7 separate regions of the Homo sapiens genome follow, and regions 2, 3, 4, 5, 6 and 7 are each linked to region 1. Evidence: fine-mapped expression QTL. A gene starts in region 1. Each other region holds a variant in brackets. All regions are shown on one strand. Distances are from middle to middle.

Region 1 (4,068 bases):
TTCAATGCTTTTATTTTATGGAAATTTCTCAACATCTTGAGACGTCAGTCAGGCTTATTATCACGAATCTTGAAAAAAAATTAGGCTTAAGAGGAATCAGAGTGTAAATAATCCAATATCCACCTTCCTTTCCAGGAAATAGCCATCTTCTTGGGTATCAGGAAAAGGAAGATAAAGGGGACTCCTAAACTGACTTTCCCAGGGGCTCCCACTCCAGCTGCTCAGGTACCCAGTTAGCACTTTTCTTAATGTTCTGTGCTGACAGAGCTTCAAAGAGTGTGGTAAGTCATATTCATGTGCAAAGGTGAGAGTGAGGGAATGTGTTTAGGCCCATGTATGTTCCTCACAACAAAAGTGCAAAGGGGACAGAGACACAATGGAGAGGAAATGAGGACCCAGCTGTCCCAGGTTCTGTCTGAGGGAAAAGTCCTGCGGTGCTAAGCAAGCCCTTCCACACCTCAGAAGGGATTTCTCAACTGTAAAATGAGTGGCTGAACCAGATTCACAACACTCCTAATGCTGCAACTCCTTCAGTCTTGCTGGCTGTACAGTAGGCAGTCACAGACTATGGTGCCAGCCTTGGGTATGAAGGGCCCAGTTCAATGAAGAAAGACATTGAGACATCACCACATGGCCAGCAGCAGCTTCTGGTGCACAAATATCTGGGGAGGGGAAAGCACTTTCAGTGCCCAAGTGCAAGGAGCTGAAGTAGGCCTGCTGGAAAATGCCAAGGTGGTGCGCTGTCTCACCACTTTCTGCAGGGCCAGCAGAATTCCTCTGTGAGGGAATCTGCCTGGGTGATGGAGGCTCACCAGTGCCTCGTGACCAGAAGGCCATCTGCTTCTTCTTGATCAGGCCAGTGCTTAATGCTCAGATCTCTGAATTCAATGTAAGCTCAAGGTTTCGTGCTGAGCCTCTTGGGATTGCCAACACCTCAGGGGATACATTTTCCAGCTCCTACCCATATACCAGTCTCCCAGCTCAGCATTCTCATTTGGATCAAAAGTAATTTGTGCAAGCCTGATTTGTTAACACATCCCAAATCTGAATCCGTGTGCCTTTTAAAGGTGGCAAGCTGCCATTTATGAGCCATACGCACCTCTCCTTCCTCATCACCACTGCAGTAATCCCAAGAACCACAGGCATGAATAAAAGCCCGAACTTTTCGTTTTTGGTGACAGAAATTTCTCTTACAAGCTCCAGGAGATGATGAGGAAGACAGTGTTCTCTGTTTTCTGATTTTGCTTAATTTTTTAAAAATGAGCCTCTCCCTTGACTTGGTGACACAGCTGTGATCTTATCTGGCCGGCAGGGGGATGCTCCAGGTAGGACAAAGAGTGCTTTGTTTTGTTCTTACAGCAGCCACGCATAACTGGGCTCCAAAAACGCAATACTCCTCAAAGGGAGAGTGAGAGAGAGGGAGAGAGGGAGAAGGGTGTGTGAGAGAGAGAGCGGAGGGAGAGAGAGAGAGGAGGCAGAGTGAGAGGTGTGTAGTGGTGTGTGTGTGTGTGAGAGAGAGAGAGAGAGAGAGAGAGAGAGAGAGAGAGAGAGAGAGAGAGAGAGAGAGAGAGAGAGAGAGAGAGAGACGGAGAGAGAGATTGTCCCTGTAGGAGATCTACAGATAAGAAAACTCCGGGGCGGGCGCGGTGGCTCATGCCTGTAATCCCAGCATTTTGGGAGGCGGAGGCGGGCGAATCACGAGGTCAGGAGATCGAGACCATTGTGGCGAACACAGCGAAACCCCGTCTCTACTAAAAATTCAAAAAAATTAGCCGAGCGTGATACGGCACGCCAGCAGTCCCAGCTACTCGGGAAGTTGAGGCAGGAGAATTGCTTGAACCCGGGAGACAGAGGTTGCAGTGAGTCGAGATCGCGCCTCTGCACTCCAGCCTGGCGACAAAATGAGACTCCGCCTCAAAAGAAAGAAAGAAGGAACGAAAGAAAGAGAGAGAGAGAGAAAAAAAAGAAAAGAAAACTCCATGTGTTCCCTGCCTGTCCTGATTCTCCCCCCAGCTCTGAGCTCTTAGGGTTGCTTCCTTTCGGGAAAAGGTTTGGAAGAACTGGTGTCTAATACCGTCATCCTCTCCCTCTCCCCGCAAGGATCCTAGCGCTGTTTCCGAGGGCTGCAGGGACTGTGAGCCCAGGACCGGCCAGCAGAGCGGGTGCGACTCAGCGAGCCCACCCCGGCCGGTCGCCGCTCCGGGGTCCCGACCTCCAGCGCGGCGACCGTGCCCTTCCTCCCACTCCCGCCTCGCCCCCGGGGCCCCTCCTCACTCAGGCGCGGCGCGGAGCTGCTCGCGGGAACTGGGGTCCCTGGGCGCGTTCCACCGCGCACCAACGCGACCCAAGCGCTCCAAACCCGACTGCTTCTCGCCGACAGCACTGCGAGCCTCCGACCAGCCGCTGTCCCCCTGGCTGCGGGCCGAGCAGCTCTGGCAGGCGGCGGGCGGGTGGGCTGCGCGCGGGCTGTGTCCTGGGTCCGCCTAGCGCGGCCTTGTGGCCCCGACCCTCTCCTCCCCTGGTGATGCTGGAGGAGGTACCGGGGAGGAGCGTGTGTGGCCCCGGCCTCTCACTAGCAGCGGCGGCTCCCGACGCTAGCCTGCTCGAGCGCACCCAGCACCCTCCCCAAGACCATGGCCCGCACCTGGACCCGCGGTTAACTTAGCCCGCCGCGGAGAGAGCCAGGCAATGCCTGGGTGGTGTCGTGCTCACCAGCTCCTTTCCGCAGACCTGATGCCGATCAGATTTACTCCCTGCTGAATTCACCCCCCAGTCAGGCCGGTTTTCCTTGTTTCACCGTGTTCTCTGAATACACTGAATTACTCCGAGCATCTATAGTTGGCAATGCCCTGCGCATTTTCCGCACTCCGATACACTTTACACTGAACACCAATTCGGAAGTTGTGTGGACCGTGCTCCAGATTGGAAGGCCTGCCACTGTGCTGGTGTCATTTCTCCCTGGAAATGACAATGAAGGACAATCAGGAATAGCACTTAGGTCTGAGGAGAAATGGAGCTAGAAGGAGCCGTTTCATAGCTCAGTGTAACACAGAGTTATTTGGGGTTTAACTGAAACGCCTTCCTTCATCTTCCAATGTTTTCTCTTCAATCCACTTTCTAATAAATTAAAAACACACTCATTTAAAACTTCAGCTAGAAACTTAGGGAAAGTAGTTTGAAATTTATGTGTGGTGTTATTAAAATTTTATATTTTTAAATCGTGTTTTGGTTTTTGGTGAGGTGCCAGAACTGGAGATGAAATTTTGCTTATTTTGATTTTGAGTATTCTGCAGTAAGATGGCCTGAATTTTAGCTTGTTTCTCCCACTTATGAGTGGTGTGACCTTGGGGAAGTTCATCATCTCTGCTTCTCGGTCTCCTCATCCATAAAATCAAGAAAATCAAAATCAGTCAGTCAGAGGCAGTTTGTGAGCACGAAATGCAAATACATGTGAAATGCTTGGGACAGAGCTTGGCCTATGGGAAACATTCATTCAATATGTGTTATCTAATATTGATAGCTTAATGAAGCAGTGACTCATTTAAACCTAACAATAGATTTTATTTTTAATTTAAATGGAACTCTATCCGCCTAATGACATTGTCTTGTACTTCCTGGACTAACCCCCTGTAAAACAAATGGCCCACAAATATCAATCTAAAAGGATACATTATGCCCTACCAAAGACATCTCTAACGTCTTCTTTTGACCTTAAGACAAAGGTGAAGACAAAGTTGAAGTTGAAGACCTAATCCCACACTAAAAAGGTGGTAAGCTTTGAGAACAGCTCCTGAAAACAAGTATGCAACATTTTATTCACTTCTCTCATTGCCAGCAACATGTCATCTCCCATTGTCATTAGGTCATATTCTCTGAGCAGCCCCACAGCAGTTGGCATTTGGCAGGTTAGTGCCCTGAGAAGATGCCCAGTGAAGAGTGCCCAGATTTAGCAAATAAAAATGCAGAACATCTGGTGAAATTTGAATGTCAGATAAACAATAAATAGTTTTTTAGTATAAATATGCCCCATGCAATATTTGGGACATATACTAAAAAGTTATTTGTTGT
Region 2 (4,068 bases), 64 kb before region 1:
CTCTTCTTCTTTTTCTCTCCCTCTATCTGTAGCTGTGCTTTCCTTGAGAACAAGAAGGATTCCTTGGTAGCTTTCATCCTGGTACACATTCCTGCCCCAAGCCTAGCATATTCTTGACACAAAAGACATTCACTGTTGACTGATGAATATTTAAACTTTTTCCATTGCCAGATTTAACCACTTATGATACAGTGAAACACTACTTGGTATTGAATACACCACTTGAGGACAATATCATGACTCACGGTTTATCAAGGTAAGGATTGTTTTAGTTGGACTCTGTTTTTTTTTTTTGTATCACTTTTTCTTCCATATTTGACATAAATTCTTTAGGCTCATTTGATTGGGATTGTACTGGCATCACCTTTAGAGAAGAGTACATTTATAAAGAGAAATTTCTTAAAGTTTCTTGCAGTTAGAATGGGGAAGAGACAGACAAAGTTGTAGGATGTTTTGGATTAAACCTCTCAAAATATTTGCATCTTGATGGGGCCATCCCAGGAACAGGCTATGATGATGGACTCTCCAACTCATTTCAACAGATATGTTTGAGTGCCTTTTATGTTAAAGGCACTGGGCAGGGCTCTGCAGTGGGCACCAAAGGGGTAAACTCAATTCCTACCCAGGGAACTTACCAACCAGGAAAACAAGACAAATATAAAAACACTCTACAGGAAATGCTAAAAGGAAGCAACTAGTTACTACAGGGTTCAGGGGAAGGAAAAAACATAACCACTTGGAAGGATCCACAAAGGAGGTAGAAATAGACAAGGGTTTTCAAAGGCTGTGACTCTTCACAGAAAGGGATACGAAGGGCTTTCCAGGAAGGAGCAGTACCTTGATCTCTTTGCAACACAATTTCAAATTATCCATTAGAATGACTTATTTTATAGATGTCTACTGTCCTTGACATTATAGTGATTTCATTTAGCTTCTGATCGTTTCCAAATTCTAAAACTTCCTATGCTATTTAGATGACCCTAAAAGTAGACAACCCTAAAAGTGTAATAGTGTCAAGTCAAATATTTGGAGGTAGGGGTGTGTGTGTGCACGCGCATGCACACACGCATGTGAATTTAACCACTCCAAGAGTATTACTGACTCGGCTTTTGCATGTACTGTTCTATCTTCTTGTAACATTCTTCCTTCAGGTCTTCATATACATGTGTCCTTTGTAACCACTCAATTCTGCTGTCACCCCCGGAGCTTTCCCTGACTGCCTGTCACCCAGTTGCTCCCTGTCACACTTCCCCATGTTTTTTTCATAGCTTTTGTCAGCTTCTGAAATTATTTATTTGACTTCTGCCTTTTCCCAAGTGAAGTATAAGCTCCTCAAGGGCAGGGTCTTACCTGTCTTGTTCACTGCCTAGAAGAATGCTTGACACCAGCAGGTGCACAATGCCTGTTTGTTGACTGACATTCTTTTTGTTGTTTTTCTACCTCTTTAATTAATTTAGCATTAATTTTAAGCAAAAAGAGCATTATGAAGCTTGTAAGAATATATTTAGTATTATATTCTTTCTGAATACCACATTCCCTTTCCTAAGCTACAAACTACTACATACCATCTTTCAATTTCATTTATTTGTATTTATAGTTTATGTTCTGGACTGGTAGCTTCTATTCTGGGAACACCAGCCGATGTCATCAAAAGCAGAATAATGAATCAACCACGAGATAAACAAGGAAGGTAGATAAAAAGTCTTCAGTATCCATGTGCTTGAATATCTGTAATACCTTTGTGTTTTAAAGATGCATCTCTGCATTTTTTATTGATAGAAATGTATTTGTGTGTTTTTTGAGAAAATTGAGCGCATTTTTTTTATGCAATTACCTGCTCTTTGATGAAAAAGTGACATGCATTTGGGGAGATAAGCTAATTAACAATCATATTATTTAGACACAAGATTTTTATTATGACTTTATTGTTTTTAAAGAATTGTTAAAAGCATATTCTGCTGAGAATTTACAGAGCACTTTCTTCAGACGCTTATGACTTGAGTAGGTAACGTGGAGAATCTGATTTGATATGAAATAGTATGTTCTCCCTGGAAGAGAAAAGATAGAATGAATTCTAAATATAAGACCAAGGGTGGCATGAATCAGAAGAGTTAACCTTGAAAATATCTTTAAGATCAAAACAAGTT[T/A]TCTGTATCTGTAGAACCACAAATATTTTTCTAAACTAGCAGAAATTTTATTTATTTATTTATTTTTTTTGAGACAGAGTCTCACTCTGTCTCTCAGGCTGGAGTGCAGTGGCGTGATCTCCCGCTCACTGCAAGCTCCGCCTCCCAGGTTCAAGCCATCCTCCTGCCTCAGCCTTCTGAGTAGCTGGGACTACAGGCGCCTGCCACCATGCCCGACTAATTTTTTTAGTAGAGATGGGGTTTCACCGTGTTAGCCAGGATGACCTCCATCTCCTGACCTCATGATCTGCCTGCCTCGGCCTCCCAAAGTGCTGGGATTACAGGCGTAAGCCACCGCGCCCGGCCAATATTTAATTTTTATAAGATTCCTTAGACAATTTTTATGTACATATATATTTTTTTACACAGAAAAAAATTAAAAGGATCTTGTTTCCTTTTTAGGGGACTTTTGTATAAATCATCGACTGACTGCTTGATTCAGGCTGTTCAAGGTGAAGGATTCATGAGTCTATATAAAGGCTTTTTACCATCTTGGCTGAGAATGGTAAAGTTAGGTTTACTTCCTTTGTTTTTTTTCTTTGTACTTAAATTACTTTTAATTTATAAGCATTTTCCCTTTTCTCTTCTGGTTTGAAGCATGGCCCTGCCCCCCAAATCAAGGTCCTTTCTTTCTTTTTTAAATCTTCTTTTATTTCCTTTCACTTCTCCTCAGAGTTATCTTGCCTTCTGTGGTAGAGTAAGGTAAAATAAGTTACATCCATTGACGAATAAGTTGATAGTCTTGTTATAAAGCCAGTAAATAGATTTTCTGTAATGTAAAATTTTTAGTATTTCATTTAGTCATATTTTAATACAATATTTTAGAATATATATACAGATTTTACACTAGAGACCTCTCCTACAAAAAAAAATACTGTTTCAAAAAAATTTGTTACTTTGATAGCAGATGTTACATTACCCATTAATATTTATTACCACAAAACTCTGCTTAGTAAGAAAATATTATGTCATTTTTATTTGGTTTAGATGTTATTTTTCATTGCAGTGAATTAAGATATAGAATTAGATAGACTTGTTTAAGCAATATAGCAAATAAAATATAGAATTCTAATTCTATAATGTAGAATTAGATAGACTTGTTTAAGTAATATAGCAAATATAATAAAAACAAAGTGCTGACGTTTTTTGTAAGTTAAAACATTTGAAAGAATAGGTGAGTTATAGGTTTAGAAATTCAAGCAATCAAAAATTAACACAATATATTATAATACAATTATATATAATGTAATATTATATGTATCTTTTTAATTGAGTACCTACATCATGCAAAGCCCTATACTGAGGACTCAGCTTTGAATAAGAAACTATAAGTGATAAATGTTATGGGAAGAGTGCATAATGCTATGGAAATATATAGCAAATAAGCACAGCCTAAGCTGGCAATTGAGTAAACCTCCCTGGAGAATGGACTTCTGAATTTAGATTTGCAAAATGAGTATGACTTAGCCAGGAAAGAGGGCAGGAAAAAAAACATTCTCTATAGAGGGACAGTTGGAGTGGACAGAGAGCAGGGTGAGTTCAAGGAAACCTAGCAGACCAAGCTACAGAGACCTCATGGAGAGAGTCAAGGGGTGAGACCACAGAGAGGCAGACACCACACTAGGAAGGACCATATGAGCCAGAAGAGTAATGGGCACCAGTTTGAAGAAATATGCATTTTTAGAAAATTTGTTCTGCCTGTCGTGTGGATTGGGAAAAGGCCAGGAGTAGTGATATATGAGAGATAATGGTGGCTTGGACAAGAGTATGACAGTGGGAATAGAAGATGGATTAAAAACATGTTTAGGAGGTAGAAAGGGAATAGAAACATGACTGATTGGATGGGGATGGGAGAATGGTTGGAGAAGATAAGGAAAAGTCA
Region 3 (4,068 bases), 36 kb after region 1:
AATTTTTTTAGGGTGATGTCACTGCTCTCTATCTTGATAATTGTAGTGATTACATGACTGGGTTACATGACTGTATGGTACACTAAAAGTATAAGTTTTAGTACATGCAAAGTATACGGTAAACATTTTTTAATATGGGGGAAAAATTAATGATTATTTAATTCATGTAGGAAGACAAAGCCCCTGTCAAAACACCAGGTCCATGAGAGTTGATGATGGAAAAGGGAATGTATTCCATAAATTCTTGGTGAATAAATTATTGGAAATATTGGGCTAGTTCAGTGGATTCCCTATTGGCTTTGTATCAGAATAACCTCTGGAGTTTATAAAAAATACAAATTTATGGATTTCTCCTCAGAGATTCTAATTCAATAAGTCAGGTCCCAGGAATTTCTATTTTTTCAATATTCACTAAATTAATGTGATGTCCATCCAGGGTTAGAATCCTTGAGCTGTATAATTGTTAAAATCCTTTCTAAACTAATCATTCTTATAACTGCATAGAATTTAGGATGTATGTAAACTTCTTTGGAGGAAAAATATTTACGTTTACTAGCCCTATGTGACATTTAACATTTCCTTCAACTATGAATGGTGGGTAACAAAACTCATACGTATTATTAGTTCATGTGGCTTCGTTGCACACAGATATCTCAGATATTTTCATGTTATATTAATATTATATTTCAAATTAAGAAATATTTTGATAATATCTCAGATATCTTAAAATATTTATACTCATTAACTGGAAATTACAGTAACTATTAGAATTATCTCTAAATCTAGTTATGTAATATATTAATAATGACATAAATATGCCACAGTTATTTTAATATTTTAATAATTGCATTATGATAATATCAGTATTCTTTGTAATCTCTTATATTACATTTTATATAAAAAGGCTTTTCCTAGAAAGGGGTTTATAGACTTTACCAGGCAGCCAAAGTGGCTCATGGGACAAAATAATTAAACACTTTCATGGTAAGTTTCCCTGATTTAAAGTGTTAGGGCTCCCGTTGTCATTGCCCATTTTTGTAATGGAAATGTGTTTTCTTTTTGCCAATCTGTACATTACCTTTGTCCACTAAGAATATTAAGAGAAACCATTTTTCCCAATCTGTGATTTATTTTTTAATAAAAAAGTGGGCCGGGCATGGTGGCTCACTCCTGTAATCACAGTAATTTGGGAGGCTGTGGTGGGTGGATTACCTGAGGTTAGGAGTTTGAGACCAGCCTGACTAACATGGTGAAACCCTGTCTCTACTAAAAATAATAATAATAAAAAAATTATCCACGTGTGGTGGCACAAACCTGTAATCCCAGCTACTTGGGAGGCTGAGGCAGGAGAATCGCTTAAAACTGGGAGGCGGAGGTTGCGGTGAGCTGAGATCGTGCCATTGCACTCCAGCCTGGGGGACAGAGCGAGACTCTGTCTCAAAATAAATAAATAAATAAATAATAATTTTAAAAAGGGGAGAAAAATCATTAAAAAAATAAAGTATTATGGCTCCTGTAACTGCAGACACACCCATATTTAAATGAAAGCAGAGGGGGAAAGCTACTTTAAAATAAAGGTGTGATGGGGTTCTGGATCACCTAAGGCATTTCTGGTTACCAACATCCCTTTACTCAATCAAGCTGGCACGGAAATATATTTAGGTCAGGCGCGGTGGCTCACGCCTATAATCCTAGCACTTTGGGAGGCCTGGACAAAAAAAGAGCGAAGCTCAGTCTCAAAAAAAAAAAAAAAAAAAAAAAAAAAAAAAAAAAAAAAAAAC[G/A]GAAATGTATTTACTTGTGCAAGCCCAGCTGACAGGTTGAGGATGATAAGGCTTGGGTGTTGAAAGACACATTGAGCAATATGAGCATTCCCATATCACTCAAGTGCCTATACTTACGCTCATTCACGCTGATGGAACTTCCTCTTCTCCCACCATTTCAAAACATGGCACGCAAAATGAAAGGAAGAAAGACAAAAGAAGCAGCTAAGGTTGACAACGGAGTTGAAAGGCGCTGGTTTGTGAAAGCAAACAGATATGATGGAATACACATAAATACACACATATACACACACACACAAAACCAGATGGTAAAGTCAACCTTTATGGGAGGGGGACCACATAATTTACTCATTCTCTTCTAGGACACTATACATGAAGTTCTGCTCATAGCAGAGTGAATAAAACCTGAGTCGTTTTTATTTTGTTTCATTTTTCCTCAAAGATTTTAATGTTCTAGGGAAAAAAAAACCCCTCAGTGGAAGTAAAAGATGACTGACTAACGAAGGCATAATGCCTATGTTTTTGAAAAGTGCTGTGTCAGAGGGCAACAGAACATGGGGGTAAGAGCAGGGGCTTTTGCCTGAGACAGGTAGGTTCCAGCACTTCCCAGCTCAGTGGCCTTGAGAAAGTTGCTGACCTTTGTAAGCCTCAGTTTCTTCCTCTATAAGGCCCATTCATGCTGGCTTCATTGATACTTGTGAAGATTAAGCAATATGTGGCCAGAGAGAAAGAATTGAGAAAGCTTAATGAGAGACACCTTTCTTAGAACTCATCAAGACTAAAGGTTCCTCGAAACATAAGATTGACGGAGGGATAGTGAGATGGCAGGTGACTAGTTATGTGTGAAAGCAAGCAGTAAGAGCTAGTAGAAGGTAGGTATTAGGATGGTACTATAAAATTTTTAAAAATTTTTTCTGTGTATTTGAAAGTTTTCTAAATGTAATGATAGGGGGAAAATCTAGAGGCTTTTCTGTAGTAGCCAGTGGCCTTTGGAAATGTCTGTGGTGCCCACAAGCCCAAGAAATTAGAAACAATTCCCTCACATTCTGCTGTGTAGTCAGAGTTCAGGATCTATTTTAGGGTAGTCAGTTCAAGCAATTCTTTCTAAGCAGTTTGAACTTGAGGAGTTTGGTTAGTCTGCCATATCTTCAGTTTCCTCATTTGTAATTGGTGATAGGCATGCCTGCCTCTTAGGATTACACATGATGTACCTGGCACTCATGATTATAGTTATGACTCTTATTATCGGAGTCAAGAGGACCTTAAAGTTCATCTAACCAAAAACCCTTATTTTACAGATGGGCAATCAGATGCTCAGAGAAGAAAAGTGATTTCCCCAAGCTCACATAGCGGATTTGTTGTAGAATTAGTATTTGAATTTGGGTTTTCTGTGTTCTAGTCCAGTCATCTGTCCACCGTCCCACACTCCCTCCAGAGGATTGTTCCCCCCATCTTATAAAATCACATGTAACAACTATAGGGCAATCAGGCATCACCAATAATTCCTATGCAAAAGAGCAAATTTCACTAAGAGACAGCTCAGGAATTCTCTCCCCTGCTGGCTTTGTCACTCTGTTCTCAACATTTGGGTAGTCCTAGATTCCATCAGACCAAAGGACTTTGGGGCAGAAGCCGTGAGCTCTCCAGGAATCTTGGACTTGAGGGGTACTAGAATTTTTCTCTTTGGGCACTCTGGCATGGCTTGTGGGAACATTATAAGTACAGCAGCAGTCTCTTAGCAAACCATTTCTTGTCACATGTCATTTGACAAAACCAAGGCAAAGAAGAAGCTCCCTTCCAGGATATAACTGGAGTCCCAAGGCCAGCCTGTGGCCACACATGTTCCTCTTATTGGGCCGGGGAACTCTAAATTCTTGCCACATTTGCAGAAGAGAAATCAGAGACCTTCCACCCACTAGGAACCATGTGACTGTTTAGCAACTTTGCAGCAGGGGTTCAGAAATTAGAGAGAACAGCTTCTGCTCTCTAAGTTGGCTTCCTATTTCTCGCCTGGTCACACTCAAGACACTTCTCTGGCCTTATCTAACACCCATGCACATTGTGCTAGTCTCCAAGTAAATTTAGCTACAAAGATTTTTTTTTTAATGTTCAGTACTGGAATTCCCTCAGCCATGTGACTCTGAGCCTCCTTATCAGGTTCCATGAAACTTGATGACTGCAGATCCTGAAGAATCTAAGGTAGCAAAATACTTTCCACTGAGAAGTCAAGGTTGTGTGTGAAACAGTGAAACATGAGGTCTGGCCCCTATTGCTATTATAAAAATGT
Region 4 (4,068 bases), 300 kb before region 1:
AGGCAAGAGGATCAGACTCAGAGAAGGAGGTGTGTTATTGGAAGCAGAAGTCAAAGAGATGGGTAGTGAAATATTAAGATTTACAGTGTTGGCTTTGAAGTTGGAGGAAGGGGCTACAAGTCAAGGAATGCAGGCAACCTCTAGAAGCTGGAAAGACAAGGAAATGGATTCTTCTCAAGAGCCTCCAGAAGGAATACATGACTGCTGACACCTAGATTTTAGGACTTCCGACCTCCAGAACTCTAAGATAATACATTTGCATTGCTTTAAAACACTAAGCTTGTGGTAAATTGTTAGGAATTTAATTTAAATTAGTTAAATAGGAAACTAATACTCTAGGAAAACAAACAAGCCTGATTTATAGTTTGTTCATTTCCATGTTGTTAGTACTCCCATGGCCAATTTAATCCATGTTGTTAAATGCTGCACACAATTGGTGGAGCGGGTAAGTGCCCACTTCAGCATATTACTGGGTATAACTACAAAATGGCACCAATAACACAGACTGCCTATACAAACCTGGCACAAGACTTTCATGTGATTTGATATGGTAATTAATTTATCATTGGTACTTTAAAATTTACTCCCTCTGACCAATGTGCTGATTGCCCAGTATGCCTGTGTCACCTTTCTTTAGGTTCCATTCACACTATGTGCCTCACAAAGATAGCTGCTTTTCCTAGGATACTGAATATTACCACAGTGATAAAAGTGCTGAGCCTAACCATCTGGGTAACCAATCCAATGGTAACTCCACAAACAAATTATCTCAAAACAAAACTTCTCCTTGGTCTGAATCCCACAATTTCTGGTGTCCTGAGAGTGGGTGCAGTAATGGTGGCAGCTGAGGGAGAGGTGTCTGTGAAGCAAACTCAGAGACAGGTCTCCTGAGGCCCATGCAGAAACACTCTGGGGAGACCTTACATGACAGTTTTTTTTGGAATGAGGAAGGAATATTTGGAGGGCTGCTTATGGGAGCCTCCATGTCACTAAGCACAGACTGCCCCAAAGCAGCTCATAAAGAGAGGACTTGAAGAACTGCAGCCTCCTCATTTAGAATGGAGGAAAGAAAAGAACTCAGAATGAGATGTAGAGAATGGGATTATAACTTTCTTTTCTTCATGCTTCTTCTAGAGACCCACCCCAGGAGATTCTTATCCTAAGATGAGGTCCTAGAACAGATTATTGAGAAATGCCCAGGCAACTCCTCTCATCTGTAGTTTGAAACCATCAACTGGGCCAGTGATTCTCAAGCAAGGTGATTTTGCCCCCCAGGGGACATCTGGCAATGTCTGGGGCCATTTTGGGTATTCATGATGGGGAATGGCATACTGTCAGCCAGTGGGTAGAGGCCAGGGATACTACTAAACATCCTACATGGCACAGGGCAGCCCGCACACAAAGAATTATCAGTCAGAAACGTCAGTAATTCTGAAGTGGAGAAACCCTGAATGAGATTGTGCCATGAGAAGTTGTGCACCTCCCATATTAGTTATATTTCTGGCAACAAAGTCTCTGACAATTAAATATGTCGTTGCGATGCATTATTTATTCATGATGGCCTTCTATATAGATTGGAATATAAATCTTCTCACTTTGTGCCCAGCAATAATTAGTATTATACAAATGACAACCTGTGCCAAAAGAGATTTTTAAAAGGTTACCATGTATGCTATTGGCTATCATTCTGTCTACAGTGATTATATAGGATTCCCTAAAGAATTATTTTTTGAAATAACTCCTTTAATCATATAAAACATTAAGTGTAATAAAGTCATTCATATGAATTCAAATTCTCTTTATAATGATGTTTCTCTTCCAGAGAACTGTCACTTTTCATGTGGCTATTTTGCTATGATGCTTCCTGCACTATTTTCTTCAGAAAGAAATGTGCTTGGATTAAGTGAAGAGTCTTCTAAGTAAAATTCTCAAAGTACTTAATGAA[T/C]ATATTTTAAAAACCATATTCAGATTTTAAAGGGCTCTGTTCTCATTTACCTTCTCTTTCCCATGCAAATGTTAATTCCTTCTAAAGTAATTGGACCTGCTTAAATTGCCAATCACAATTAACGAATACTCAAAATTTGCCATTAGCAAGAATGAAGCACCCGCAGAGGAATGTATCTTCTATTCAGTAGACTTTTGTTTCCTGAAATTAAAATTTGAAATGCCTTTAATTACTCACAAAGAAGGCTTGGTCAACCAATCCAGTTTTCTTTAGGAACTGATGCAACGACAGAATGGAAAGCAAAACAGGAAGGCAAAACTGACTTGTCTTTTCAGAAAACTTCTAAGGATGCTGTACCAACTACAAGTCCAACACTTATCAGGCTTCACATGGAGGCATATGAATGGAATTGCCAAGTGACTGCATCTAGTCTTTGTAACTATACATCAAACATAAAGGAAAATGGAACTTTCTAGTGAGCACTGGAGAAATGAAGACAAAAGACTGTCAATTTATTGGTACAGTAAGGAAATGTGTAGCTGTTCAAGACTCTGTACGCAGGGGAGATAGAAAATGCACTTTCTTCTGGGCTAGTTCTTGTGAATAAACATATGTGCTCAGATTTCAGAAGGTACTCATCTGGCTTACTGCTCCCCCATCTGGATTTAGAAGTTCTTCTGAGGGTAGTGAGACTAGACAATGGCAGTTGACCAGAGTTGCTCTTTGGTGCGTTATGCAGCAACCACAGGCAAGGGAAGCAAGAGTCCCAACAGGTTTCTTTTTCTTGAGATGGAGTTTTGCTCTTGTTGCCCAGCCTAGAGTGCAGTGGCACAATCTCGGCTCACTGCAACCTCCACCTCCTGGGTTCAAGCAATTCTCCTGCCTCAGCCTCCCGAGTAGCTGGGATTACAGGCGCGTGCCAGCATGCCCGGCTAATTTTTTTGTATTTTTAGTAGAGACGGGGTTTCTCCATGTTGGCCAGGCTGGTTTCGAACTCCTGACCTCAGGTGATCCACCTGCCTTGGCCTCCCAAACTGCTGGGATTATCGGCATGAGCCACCGTGCCGGGCCCAGAGTCCCATGAGTTTTAAATGATGCAAGATGCAGATCAGACTGATGGGCAGAAACTATTATTATTCCTAGCCAATAGTTACAGTTAACTAGGATCAAGACATCATTGACTATATCACTTATATCCTTACAGGAAACCTATGAGGTCAATACTGTTACTTGATGCTGTTTTACAGGTGAGGAAATTGATGTTTAGAAAGGTTAAATAAACTGCCTATGGTCGCACAACTAATAAGCAGTGGAATTTGGTTTTGGACTTAGACTGATAGATGCTAAGGCCCTCTCTCTCTCAATCACTCTGCTATATCATTTCCCTAATTAGAGACAGAATGACCCTTGTGGGGATGAGGCTTGAGTTCTTAGATAATAAAAACAGAACCAACCCCTCCAAAGTACCAGTAACTCAAAAGAAAGTTCAGCCTTCCCAGTAGGCACCAATGCCTTCAGTCACATGTAGACACAGATTATGTGACTGTTGTCTGTCATCTCCAGACACTATAACATTAAACAACTGCCTCATTTTTTTCCAAGCAGATGCTTCCATTTATGCTTCAGTTGGAAAAGCATTTGGTTATACTCAGAAGCCATTAGTACTCTTACGGGCTTGAAAGTGCCACGTAAAATAAATTGATCCTATTTGGGTGTATGCCCTGAACAGGCAATAGGAAAACGAGCCTCCACATTGACCCATAATGTTCCATTTCTGGGCTTGCTCAATCCTTTTTAATGCCCTGCCATCAAGTTCCAATACAGTTTACAGTTTAGATGCTTATTTAGTTTAACATGGTATAATAACATGTGTTTTGGCTGCTTTTAGCAGATCCTGCATAAATTCCAAGAGCATCACTCCCACCCCATATCCTAAAATAAGGGATCTATAGTCACTTAATTTATAAAATACAAGGCATGAAAATATGTCTTGAAATGTTTAAAAATTGGGTAAAGTCACTGATTAAGGTGTTCACAAACCAAATGTACATTGAGTGCAGATAATAAGGAAACTTTTATTAGGGAGGACTTCAAACTTTGTTGTTGTTACAGTTGTTGTTTCC
Region 5 (4,068 bases), 46 kb before region 1:
TACAGTTAGGCCAGGGTCATTTGAAGCACTGCCTTGTTGTATTTGTATGTAATGACATTTCGAAACGTGGAATGAAAGGAAAAGTACAGGCAGACTATAAGAAGCTTCCACGGATGTGTCTAACTTTGCAAATGAACAAAAATCTAATGTAGACATATCCTGGAAACTTCTAGTTTGCCTGCACTTTTCCATTCCAAATGGAGGTTTGGACATTTAACAGAGGCCTCAAAGGGTTATCCTGTTAAGATTTTAGTATATACAGCAGGGGCTTGAAGGAATGTTGATTCCATTCCTCTTGGCCTCCTTTTATGAATCCAGTTCTGTGCTAGCTCTGTGAGTAAATGAAAATGCCTTCAAAATTGGGATGCCAGAGTTAGACAGCAAAGGAGCAAAGGAACCCGTATCAGCTAAGTGTGGGAAGGGAAATATGTACCAGTTGCTATATACTTTCACACGTTATTTTAACCTCATAACAACTCTTATCAATTCAGATGATGGAACAGGGTTAAAGAATAGAGGCTGAGCACCTGGCTGTCCACGGACACACTGAGCCAGCAGGAGCACCCGTGCCCCGCAGCAGCACCCAGGGCCCTCCTAGAGTTCCGGCCTTAACGCCTAGGAACGTGCCATTGGCTCCTGCGTTTCTCGTTCCCGTCGGGAACGCCACTGGCTAGTACCTTGCCTGGCCCCCAGTGCTCAATCCCTGGTAGTTGGGAGGACGAAAAGGAAATCCCTCTCTGGTCGGTCCTCACCGCAGCCCTGTGTCAGGCCGTCACACGGCGGCCTCCAGAGTCGAAGGCGCTCTGAGGAGATGCAGGTTGTGTCCAAAACCTCCCACCTCGGGGTCTCCTGAACGTCCCAACAAGCTCCTTGGGCCCTTAGGCGTTAGGCCAACCCCAGGCCTCGGCTGGCCCCGCCCACTCTCCGCGGCCGGAAGTGGCGGCGCCGAGTGAGGTAAATGCGTGCCCGGAAGCGCGACCTCGGGCGGTTGGAGGGGCTACCGGGTCTTACCAGTCCGTGGCGGGAGTCCCGGAGGACCCTCGACGGGGGAGTTGCCGAGAAAAGGCCTCGCCGGCATTCTTCCCCTCCACTGGGTCCTTTGAACCTAGTTTGGCTGGGACTCGCCTTCAGGCGGCGCGGAGGATTTCGAGGCCCTGAGGCGCGGCCCTTAATTTCCGGAAGTGGGGGCCGCGCCGCGCCGTCAAGATGTGCTCGACGCCCGGAATGCCGGCGCCGGGGGCCTCGCTGGCCCTGCGGGTGTCCTTCGTGGACGTGCATCCCGATGTGATCCCGGTGCAGCTGTGGGGGCTGGTGGGCGAGCGGCGGGGCGAGTACCTGCGGCTGAGCCGGGAAATCCAGGAAGCGGCGGCCACGCGCGGCCAGTGGGCGCTGGGCAGCGCCTCGGCCTCGCCCGGCGAGCTGTGCCTGGTGCAGGTCGGGCTTTTGTGGCACCGCTGCCGCGTGGTCAGCCGGCAGGCACAGGAGAGCCGTGTCTTCCTGCTGGACGAGGGCCGCACCATCACGGCCGGAGCAGGCTCGCTGGCGCCTGGGCGCAGAGAGTTCTTCAATTTGCCCTCGGAAGTGCTGGGCTGCGTGCTAGCGGGCCTGGTGCCGGCAGGCTGCGGCGCGGGCTCAGGCGAGCCGCCGCAGCACTGGCCCGCCGACGCCGTGGACTTCCTTAGCAACCTTCAGGGCAAGGAGGTGCACGGGTGCGTCCTGGACGTGCTGCTGCTCCATCGCCTGGTCCTCCTGGAGGTGCCTGATGTGTTCCAACAGATGCGGGAGCTGGGCCTGGCTCGGCGGGTGCCCGACAGCCTCTTCCGTTCGCTGCTGGAGCGCTATCTCACAGCGGCCACTGCTAGCGTGGGCTCCGGGGTCCCGGTTCTCTCGCGAGTCCCGCTCAAGCAAAAGCAGCCTGGTCTGGATTACTTCTATCCCCAGCTGCAGCTGGGCGTGACGGAGGCCGTGGTCATAACCCAAGTGTGCCATCCCCACCGCATTCACTGCCAGCTCCGCAGCGTCTCGCAGGAGATCCACCGCCTCTCCGAGAGCATGGCCCAGGTATACCGGGGTTCCACGGGGACAGGGGATGAGAACTCTACCAGTGCCACCTGGGAGGAGAGGGAGGAGAGCCCAGATAAGCCGGGCTCTCCGTGTGCATCCTGTGGCCTGGATGGACATTGGTACAGAGCACTGTTGCTTGAGACTTTTCGGCCCCAGCGCTGTGCCCAGGTGCTTCATGTGGACTATGGAAGGAAGGAGTTAGTGAGTTGCAGCAGCCTTCGGTACTTGCTGCCTGAATATTTTCGAATGCCGGTGGTGACCTACCCTTGTGCTTTGTATGGACTCTGGGACGGTGGGAGAGGCTGGTCTCGGTCACAGGTCGGTGACCTGAAG[A/G]CACTGATACTAGGCAAGGCAGTGAATGCAAAGATTGAATTTTATTGCTCCTTTGAGCATGTGTATTATGTCAGCCTGTATGGAGAAGATGGGATTAATCTGAACCGTGTGTTTGGAGTACAGTCGTGTTGCTTGGCTGACCGAGTCCTTCAGAGCCAGGCAACAGAGGAGGAGGAACCAGAAACATCTCAGTCTCAGTCTCCTGCTGAAGAAGTAGATGAAGAGATTTCACTCCCAGCCTTAAGATCTATCAGGTTAAAGATGAATGCCTTCTACGATGCGCAGGTAGAGTTTGTTAAAAATCCTTCTGAGTTTTGGATTAGGTTGAGGAAACACAATGTCACCTTCAGTAAGCTGATGAGGAGAATGTGTGGTTTCTATTCCTCTGCCAGTAAGCTGGATGGTGTAGTTTTGAAACCTGAACCTGATGACCTTTGCTGTGTCAAGTGGAAAGAAAATGGTTATTATAGGGCCATAGTCACCAAATTGGATGACAAGAGTGTGGATGTATTCTTAGTTGACCGAGGCAATTCGGAAAATGTGGACTGGTATGACGTAAGGATGCTGCTTCCTCAGTTTAGGCAGCTACCAATATTGGCTGTGAAGTGCACCCTGGCTGATATTTGGCCTTTGGGAAAAACTTGGAGCCAGGAGGCAGTTTCCTTTTTTAAAAAGACTGTGCTCCACAAAGAATTAGTCATCCATATTCTTGATAAACAGGATCATCAATATGTTATTGAGATTCTTGACGAATCAAGAACAGGGGAAGAAAACATTAGTAAGGTAATTGCCCAAGCTGGATATGCCAAGTATCAGGAATTTGAAACAAAGGAAAATATCCTGGTAAATGCCCACTCCCCAGGGCATGTTTCAAACCACTTTACTACGGAGAGTAACAAAATACCTTTTGCCAAGACTGGAGAAGGAGAGCAGAAAGCCAAGAGAGAGAATAAAACCACATCTGTTTCAAAAGCTTTGAGTGACACAACAGTTGTAACAAATGGTTCAACTGAACTAGTTGTGCAGGAAAAAGTGAAAAGAGCATCTGTTTATTTTCCTCTTATGCAGAATTGCTTGGAAATTAAGCCAGGCTCCTCTAGTAAAGGAGAGCTGGAAGTTGGAAGTACAGTAGAAGTCAGAGTGTCTTATGTTGAAAACCCTGGCTATTTCTGGTGTCAGCTGACCAGGAACATACAAGGACTTAAAACTCTAATGTCTGATATTCAGTACTATTGCAAAAATACAGCTGCTCCTCACCAGAGAAACACCCTTGCTTGTTTGGCTAAGCGAACAGTAAACAGACAGTGGTCCAGAGCACTTATTAGTGGGATACAGTCTGTGGAGCATGTCAATGTAACATTTGTAGATTATGGAGACAGAGAAATGGTATCTGTGAAGAATATTTATTCAATTAGTGAAGAATTTCTGAAGGTTAAGGCACAGGCTTTTAGGTGCAGTCTTTATAATTTAATTCAACCAGTTGGCCAGAATCCCTTTGTTTGGGATGTAAAGGCAATACAAGCTTTCAATGAATTTATAGATAATGCATGGCAAAAAAATCTAGAATTAAAATGTACAATATTTGCTCTGGCTTCAATTAATGAAGAACTGTTTAACATTGTGGATTTGCTAACCCCCTTTCAGAGTGCATGCCATTTCTTGGTAGAAAAG
Region 6 (4,068 bases), 110 kb after region 1:
CAACCCATGGAGCCTGTACCATTATTATCTCCTTTCAAGTAGTGTAAATTGAGGCAGAAAGAGTTATTTTACCAAAAGTCAAACTAATAAGTGGTGGACCTCCAATTGAAAAGCACACAGTTTGGCTCTAGAACCAATGCTCTTAACCACCGTACCACATTTACCAAACTGGCTGTCAATCAATGCTGAAGAACAGCCCAATACACCTGTCCATGCAAAATGAAGCAAAGAGTGCAAAGCATTCAAGTAGCAAATCAGCTGCTGTTTCAGTCTGCATATCATAAGGAAAATCATGACTTAGCTAAATGTATTAGGACAAATGTCCCAATTCTCCACTTGATATGTTTAAACATAGCCTCAGAATCACTCTTCATTTCTGGGAAGCCATATTTTCTTCCTACATGTCTAAATGCCATCCAACACTCTGAGAATTCTTGATAGATCCGAGATGAAAATAAAAACAACAACACTGGTGATTGAGACCTTACAAGAAGCTCACTTGAATGAAGACTCAAGCTGGGGGGTTGAGATAGCTAAGTTGAGAACTACTTTCAATAAAGCAGCACAGCAGGAATTCTTTGATGTTTCATCAGAGACTTAAAAAGGAAGCAGGCACACTCTGAAGTTTGCCCAGAACATTGGTCTTTATGTCCTGGGCTGCCCCAAGGTAGAATTATAAAGTGAGATGAAGCTGGGAGATGCCTTAACTCCTCCACCCTCTCTGTCACCATTGTTCTCCCCTCTCATTTTGTGCATTTGAAACTTTTCCTGCTATGGAAGCCTACTTTTAAGCAAGTAACTGGCATCAGGTTGCATAGAGAAGCAACATAAGGAGGTGGATACATGCCCATGTTCTAGGTCAGACACTGCACTTAGATCCTGGTTCTACTGGTCCTCAGCTGTGTGACTGTGGACAAGTTATTTACCTCTCTGTGCTTAGTTTTTTCGTCTAAAAATGCAAAGAAAAAGAATATTTAGTTACTTTTGGTTTGCTGTAGAGTTTAAATGAAATTATACACATAAAAATCTTAGAACAGGACCAGGTACACAGCAAGGGCTCAAAAACTGTTGGTTAACATAGTTATATAGTTACCAGCCATTTTCATTCGAGGGTAAATTTAAGTTACTGTGTTTCACCCAGAAGTATATTTGCATACCTTTTCTCTCCTTGAGATTAACCTGAGATTAACCTTCTTAACCTTATCTGTCCTTGAGATTTCTGTTTTTGTAAAAGGAATGTCCAACATGAGGGAGAAGGTGTGAGAGCTATTCCGAGGGGATAGGAGCAACAGGCCAAGGTGCGTGACATCCCCCCAAACTGGGAAGCTGTCTGCCTTATTACTTAAGGCCATTTCAGCTTGTCCCTCTACTCCAAGGACCTGGGTCTTCTCGGATCACACGTTAGCAATGTGTGCTCAGAGGCTAGGGTAGGAACTTGTCATCCAGCCTCAGCTGCTGGCTGGTCTGTCAGATTGCCCTGGGATAGCTGCAGATTCATCTGCAGATTCATCATGGATTGAAAATGAAAATCCAGGCCAGCAGTGGCTTTGAATGGATGAATTAGGAAAGGGAATAGGGCCACCTATGTTAATCCTTTTGCAGCTGCCTTGATAGAAAAAGTATTAGGTTCCCATGAAACATGGAAGGCACCCATTTTTCTTCCTCAAACGACCTTCCAGCAACCTATCTGGAATGGGTGAACCAGATCATTTCTGGGGCTTTCAGTTTTGTTGTTAGTGCCATAAATGAGATTCAGTCAGTGAGGGGGGACAGAGAAAGGAAGGAGCTATCCCAGCGAGTATGCCTCAGAAATGTATGCCTGCCTGTGGATGTGCAATGCACACTTGTAAACCGAACAGTCTCTGAGACAGGTCTCAATCAACTTAGAAGTTTATTTTGCCAAGGTTAAGAACACGACTGGAAGAAAGGAACACAGAATCACAGAGACAGTCTGTGGTCCGTTTTTCTGCAAAGATATTTTGAGGGCTTCAGTATTTAAAGGGGAAAAGTGGAGGCGAAGAGGGAGGGTATGGTCACAATGCATAATCCATGCATTGCAGGAGAA[A/C]AGGAGCAGGTAGGGGAATAGTCAGTGATGTATTCATCTCAGTAAATCGGCACTTTACATAAAAGGTGAACCTAGCGTAGCTATCTGTGGAGATATCTGGCCTTTCATCTGTTAGCTATTCGCTTAGCAACAGAAGGAAAAGGCTGTTTCTTGCATGACTTAGCTTCCATCTTAATTTTTTCCTTTTTGCATAGTGAATTGGGGGCCTGAAATTTCCTTTGCCTTTCACACACTGAAACTACATGACTGGGATTTCCCTCCCTCCACAGTCCTACGTTGCTTTCTGACTACCCTTTCCCCTGCAAGGATCATAATATAAAAGTGTTAGGAGGCGGGAGTGAAAGAGATTTTTTTCATTCCTGGTTTCTGTTATCCACTATGCCTTGACCTTCGCTCTGTCCATATGATCAAATTACTTCCTGAACCTAGACCGTTGGGCGCGTCATCCGCGGGACTGACTGCCTCCCGCCGGCTTCCTGAGGCCGGACCGCAGCGGGGACGCCTCCTCTCAGGCCCAGCAGGGGGCGCGCGAGCCTCAGGAGACGCCAGCGGTGGTTGCGGAGCTGCGGTGCTGGAGGCCAGCTGTCACTCCAACCCAGCTGGAGATTCCTGTCGGGAATGCTTGGCATAGGACAACTGTGAGGGAGCCCCTGGGGCATGGGAAAACCCTCACAGTTCCAGAAAAAAACAGAAAACGGGTGCACAGTTTTTCTCGGTTAATCAAAGTCAAATTCCTCTTCCCACAACTGCTGGGGTGCCGGCTGGCTGGCAGGATGGAAGACCCAGGATGGTAAAAATCAAAATCCGAAAAAGGCAGGGCCCAAAGTCATTCCTAGGTTTTGCGGTTTAATGTCATCGGAAGTGGGCCGTGACAGCAATCTGCCCACCACTTGCCCAGTCAGGTCCTCTTGCCTTTCATGCTGAGAATAAAGCCATTTTTTTCCCCCCAGGCTTCTGGGTTTGTTGTGTTTGGGCTTCAATAGTCACCGGCATCCTTCACTTGGCTCTGCATGAGAGAATAAAAACCCTGCAGTGGGAACAGGCTCATGTATCTCCTAACCATGCCCCATGTGTGCAGAGGGACCTGTCATGGACACTGGTGGCCTTTCAACTTCATTTCAAAGTTTACAGGTAAAAGGGGAAAAATGGGTGTGTATAAAATCATTTAAGAATAGACAGGACGGCTGTGTCTGAATCGTAGGACACCACGACCAAGGCCCCCACGCCCACCGCTAACACATAGAGATGATATTTGGAGATAAGAACTGGTCTGGCACAGAGCGGGCTTCGGGAGTTGGCCCATCTCCCCTCTTTTCTTCTTCTGTCCACTCCACATTCACTAACAGTGGGAAACTTGGTTTCCGTCTAGAATGTGCTAGAGGATAAATAGAGCCCTCACATCCTTTATATTCATCTATAGGACATGAGGGCTCTATTTTCAGCTGTCAATGAAAATTTTGAGTCATCCTCACACAAATGTTGGAACAGGCATCTGTTTATTTGCTAGACATTTGGTTCTGAAAACTTTACTTCAAGGACCCTTGTTTAAACCTTCTATAACATGCTGGATCTTTGCACACGGCTTGGGAGTGTGGATGAGGTGAGGGAAACCATCAGCCCTGACAGCCAGTTGAGTTCAGCGGCGAGCTGCCGGCCTCCCCCATGCCTGGAAGATAGAAAGGATCGTTCGCTGTTTGGAGAGTGGAGGGGCATTCTGGGTGACATGCAGAAGCCTGAGCAGCAGCAGCACCACATTGCAAGAAGGCAGACAATTACTACAAAGACAGCTCACGGGATCTCATTAGATATTTCCTTGTTATGGAATGGAAAGGAAGCATAGCTGCGTGCTGGCATACATGATGTGATTTTAAATCCCAAGTCATAATTTTAGAAACCAACAGAACCTAATATTAAAGCTAAACTACCGTCCTCTTGAAATGATGAGACACCATTCCCGTTGCCCTTTTAAAAACACAATCAAAAGGTATGTTCCCTGTAAGTTC
Region 7 (4,068 bases), 54 kb after region 1:
AACTGAAAAACCAAGGTGTAGCTATTAAAAGCTTTCTTCCTTTCCTGGTATGTAAAGAAATGTAACACTTCTACTCACAGGTCATCGGTGACTGACACTCTGGCTTGCATGTTTGTGCAAAGCTGTCCTTATTAGTGTAATATGTGACATTGTTTTAGAAAGTGGCTGCCATTGCAGTCTTCACACTCCCATCATTGGCAATTAGAAGGTAAATTTATATTTTAAAATTTGATTCAGAATATGAGTATAATCTCACCTGCTACCAATTCAGGAAGCCTCCTTTGCCAGTCTGTCAACTTTGATCGATTATTCTGAGAATTTCCAAAAATGCCCCCAATAGGCCTCCTATCACCTTCCCCTTGTTACTTCAACTGACATTCCTGTTAAAGTGGCAGATAATGCAATTGGCCCTAAACAGAGCTGTTGTCCACTTGCATAAAAGAATCAGCTGCACCAAAAACAATTTTGCCATTTTCAAAGGGAAATGGGATTACAGATACTATTTATTTTCTTAAATGGCTAAACCTCCTGTTGTCTGGATCAAGTTCCATGTGTAACTTACTATCATCTTGCTTCCATTAAAAGACCTCAAAACTGAATGACTTTTCTAGGACAAACAAAAAATCCCCAAACCAAGCCCTACCCATTCTTTCTCCAATACCACCCCTATCTGAAGAATTGTATCTGTCTGTGGCTGCCTCACACCCAGCCTGCAGCCATGGCACTATTTTCTATGACTAACATTGTCTCCCTTCTTAAAATACTTTAGGATCCAAGAATCCTCAGATGCCCTGGAAGGTCTTCACAGCTAACGATCAAGTGTCCCTTTTGCAATTTAAGCCTGTTTCCTTGTACCCTTATTTCAGAAGCAGTAGAAAAACTTCTTCATAGGAATCACATTTCCTTTCAGAGAAAAGTCCAGCTCAATTGTGTCTTCCCTTCACTCAACAATTTCCATGTGTTAAGTATTCTCTCCCAGATGTCACAGTCCAACTAGGCCGCGTGAGCAGCGATAATCCCTCTAATTAGCAGAGGTTGGAGACTTTTCCTGAAATCAGGGGACAATCTTGTAGCTCATAGCTGAGTTGGCTTCAGTTTAAATACTTTATGAGGGTTCGATAAGTAGAAAGAGAATTGGGAAAACATAAAGTAAGCTGCTTGTCTGATTCTTCCTTGTGTCATAAGAGAAAGATAACAATGTGTTCTTTGGGTTCTATAAAAGAGAAAAGGCTGGAACCAAATCCATTGAATGCCCACCTGGCCCTAAAGAGTGGCTTATTAGGGTCCTCAGTGCCCAGCTGAGTAAGAAGTACCCCTTGCCTCACCAATTGGGATTGGTGTCTGTACACACTCCAAAACACAGTTGCCTGCCCAGGTCAGCAGGTCTCACATTTTCCATATAGAAATAACCCCCAAGCTTGTTAAAAATGCAGGTCCTCAAACCACACTGCAGAGGGGCTGTTTCCTGGAGGCCTTCTGAAATGGACTTCTGTGTTGATGATCTCTCGAATTCTTAACATCTGATGTATTCCCTATTAGGAAACTGAAGGTTCTATGATCTTTTGATTTTCTTATACAAAGGGAATCAGAGGAAAGCTATTCGATAACCACAGTGAGAGTGGAAGCATCTGACTGATGCAAATTCCACAGTGTCCTGTTCATCAAAGTGTGTTCCACAGACTACCTGCATCAGAGTCACAAGGGTGCTTATTAAAAATGCAGATCTCTGGAACTCACCATTTGACGTGAGTCAGGATTTCCAAATTCCAAGCCAAGAAATTTGTACCTCAACAAACCATCCAGAGGATTTTGAAGGAATCTATAGCTTGGGAACTGTTTCCCTCAGGGTTAATTCTTCTTAGTAAACTGTTAGAGATGGAACCCTGTGAAACCAGGGGTCTGCATGCTACA[G/A]CATAATGGTGGAGGCCTCACTCCTGGGCTGTCAAAGGCCAGACATAGGTGTAAAGAACTGCCTCTCAGGTGGAATTTAGGAGCATTGTTCAGGATCTGCATGACCTTGAGAAGGTTCCTTAATTTTTCTTCATCTCAGTTTCTTAATATATAAAATGGAGATAATAATAGTTGCTTCTTCGTAGGATTGTTGTGAGGATTGAATGGATAATTACCCTTAGATACTTGGAATACTGCCTGGCCCACAGTAAGTACTATGTACATGTTGGTTGCTGCTACTGCTTCTGTTATAATTATTATCACCGTCTCAATTTCCACCACCTTGAGGGTTATTCTCTAAAACCCAGGGGTCAGCAAACTATGACCCTTTGCTTTGTTTTTGTGAATAAAGTTTTATTGGAACACAGCCATGTTCACACCTTTACATTATTGTCTACAGCTACTTTATGCTACATACAACAGGAGAGTTACATAGCTACAACAGGGCTCATATGGCCCACAATGCTTGACATATATCTCTTTGCCCTTTACAGACAGTTTGCCGACTCTTGCTCTATACACCTTTGGGCCCCTGTTAATATGTTGATTGCCCTGGGAGGAACAAGGACTGTTGTGTTTCAGGTTAGCTGACAGCTGGTTGAAGGCAGAACTCTGTGAGTGAAGCAGAAGGAATCAGCATCTTGCAATAGAGTAGAAAGAGGGCAGAGAACATCCTTGAGAAGGGTTTGGGGTGAGAGGACTTTGCAAGTCTCTTAGCCCAACTCCTTGCCTGAGCTTTTATGAAGCTGGAGAGTGTGTGGAAATAGCTGGGGGCGGGTTTTTCCATTTTCTACCTGTCAATGGCTTTCTTCCTCTAAGCTTCAGACCACTTTCTCAACTGGTCAGTTTATGAAATGCCCTTCCTGAGATCAAAGCAAGTCACCCCATCCGATACCTTCAGAGAAATTTCTATTTACTTTTTTCAGTTAAAATGAGAACTAATTACCTACTATGTTTCCAAACACTGGGGCAAATACAGGAAATAAAGCATGGACCTTGACCACAGAGTGCATAATCTTCTTTAAACTGAAAAGCCATAAACCCTTCAAATGAAGGACTTAAGGCCCCAGCCTTACTCATTTGATACCCTGACACAATGAAGAAGTGACTAGGATTGCAAATAGCTGGTAACTAATTAACATCTGCCATTAAGATTGTGACAATAAAATAATTGGGGGCAAGTTGTGTCTGCTGAAGACCTATGTTCTCATCACTGGAGATTCTACTGAGCAAGGAGTGGGCTGAGCTGTGTTTTTAGTGCCCATGTTTTGCTAGGAGGCAGTTGCTAACTAGCAGGTAGAAGGAGCAGTTTATTGAGTGCTTCCTATGTTTCTAGTAGCTGTGGTTTACATATGTTATCTCATTGAATCTTTACATTGGCCCCATGAAGTAGGCACCACTATCCATTCTACACATAAAAAGCAGGTACTAAAATTACTGTAGCTAGTCAATGGTAGAGGTGGAGTTCCTGCTTATCTGATTCCAAAGCCATTGTTGTAGTATATCATTCAGATAAGTTTAAGAAGGCAGGGAAAGATAAAAACACATCTGGCTGGAAGCAAGAGAAGGTGGAGAGAATTAAACAGCCTCACTATTCCCTGTTTGAAATCCTGATACCTGAGATTTAGTAGAGAGGTGTACCAAAGCAACAGCACTGCCTTTTTCTTTAGAAAATAAAATAACAAACTCCTACTTCCTGGTTTCCAAGATTAACAAATATTCAGTTTTACCAAATATTCAGTTTTACCATAATTGCTTCAGAATTTGAGAAAAATTAAACAACACATTTAAGAAATAAAAGTCTCATATGTTTTCCACACTGATACTTAAAGCCAATTATTCTTACGATGTTGGCCAGTTTTAAAATTTGATTATTGCCCAATTTTTAAATGGTCTAGATTGTAGTTGCTCACTTAAGTCATTGCGGCTGTTGGGCAAATTTGGCTTTTTGTTTTGTTTTGTTTCGTTTAAAAAATAATATTAGTGGTTTGTAATGGTTAGAGACGGTGGAAGATGGCCTTTTATCACCTCACCATCAGTGGCTTAGGTAAAACAAAAATCAGCCATAGAACGCTTCTGCCCATCAGAAGCAGGCCCCCAGTTGACATGCCTCCTATT

Evidence for each region.
Region 2: its variant is fine-mapped to the expression of PLA2G7 in whole blood (INTERVAL, PIP 0.92).
Region 3: its variant is fine-mapped to the expression of PLA2G7 in whole blood (INTERVAL, PIP above 0.99). The same link has a PIP of 0.9 or more in monocytes.
Region 4: its variant is fine-mapped to the expression of PLA2G7 in whole blood (TOPMed, PIP 0.96).
Region 5: its variant is fine-mapped to the expression of PLA2G7 in whole blood (TOPMed, PIP 0.97).
Region 6: its variant is fine-mapped to the expression of PLA2G7 in whole blood (TOPMed, PIP 0.98).
Region 7: its variant is fine-mapped to the expression of PLA2G7 in whole blood (INTERVAL, PIP above 0.99).

The regions. Positions count from the first base shown.
Region 1 is chr6:46,732,906-46,736,973 of GRCh38, forward strand. It overlaps PLA2G7 (phospholipase A2 group VII), which reads right to left and starts at 2,470. Exons shown (of 12, transcript NM_005084.4): 1 at 2,275-2,470.
Region 2 is chr6:46,668,538-46,672,605 of GRCh38, forward strand. SLC25A27 (solute carrier family 25 member 27) reads left to right here. Exons shown (of 9, transcript NM_004277.5): 6 at 172-256; 7 at 1,598-1,690; 8 at 2,589-2,691. It overlaps TDRD6-AS1 (TDRD6 and SLC25A27 antisense RNA 1), which reads right to left. Exons shown (of 2, transcript NR_134643.1): 2 at 1,907-2,048. Among named protein-coding and RNA genes, the nearest start is that of TDRD6, 17 kb to the right of the region's middle. The variant T/A (reference allele first, on the strand shown) is at 2,148.
Region 3 is chr6:46,769,293-46,773,360 of GRCh38, forward strand. No RefSeq gene overlaps it. Among named protein-coding and RNA genes, the nearest start is that of MEP1A, 22 kb to the right of the region's middle. The variant G/A (reference allele first, on the strand shown) is at 1,782.
Region 4 is chr6:46,433,499-46,437,566 of GRCh38, forward strand. All of the region lies in intron 2 of RCAN2 (regulator of calcineurin 2), which reads right to left. Among named protein-coding and RNA genes, the nearest start is that of RCAN2, 56 kb to the right of the region's middle. The variant T/C (reference allele first, on the strand shown) is at 1,946.
Region 5 is chr6:46,686,923-46,690,990 of GRCh38, forward strand. It overlaps TDRD6 (tudor domain containing 6), which reads left to right and starts at 963. Exons shown (of 4, transcript NM_001010870.3): 1 at 963-4,068. The coding sequence starts at 1,207. It overlaps TDRD6-AS1 (TDRD6 and SLC25A27 antisense RNA 1), which reads right to left and starts at 1,243. Exons shown (of 2, transcript NR_134643.1): 1 at 1,012-1,243. The variant A/G (reference allele first, on the strand shown) is at 2,398.
Region 6 is chr6:46,846,537-46,850,604 of GRCh38, forward strand. No RefSeq gene overlaps it. Among named protein-coding and RNA genes, the nearest start is that of ADGRF5-AS1, 55 kb to the right of the region's middle. RefSeq lists an enhancer at 305-869. The variant A/C (reference allele first, on the strand shown) is at 2,066.
Region 7 is chr6:46,787,324-46,791,391 of GRCh38, forward strand. No RefSeq gene overlaps it. Among named protein-coding and RNA genes, the nearest start is that of MEP1A, 4.0 kb to the right of the region's middle. The variant G/A (reference allele first, on the strand shown) is at 1,912.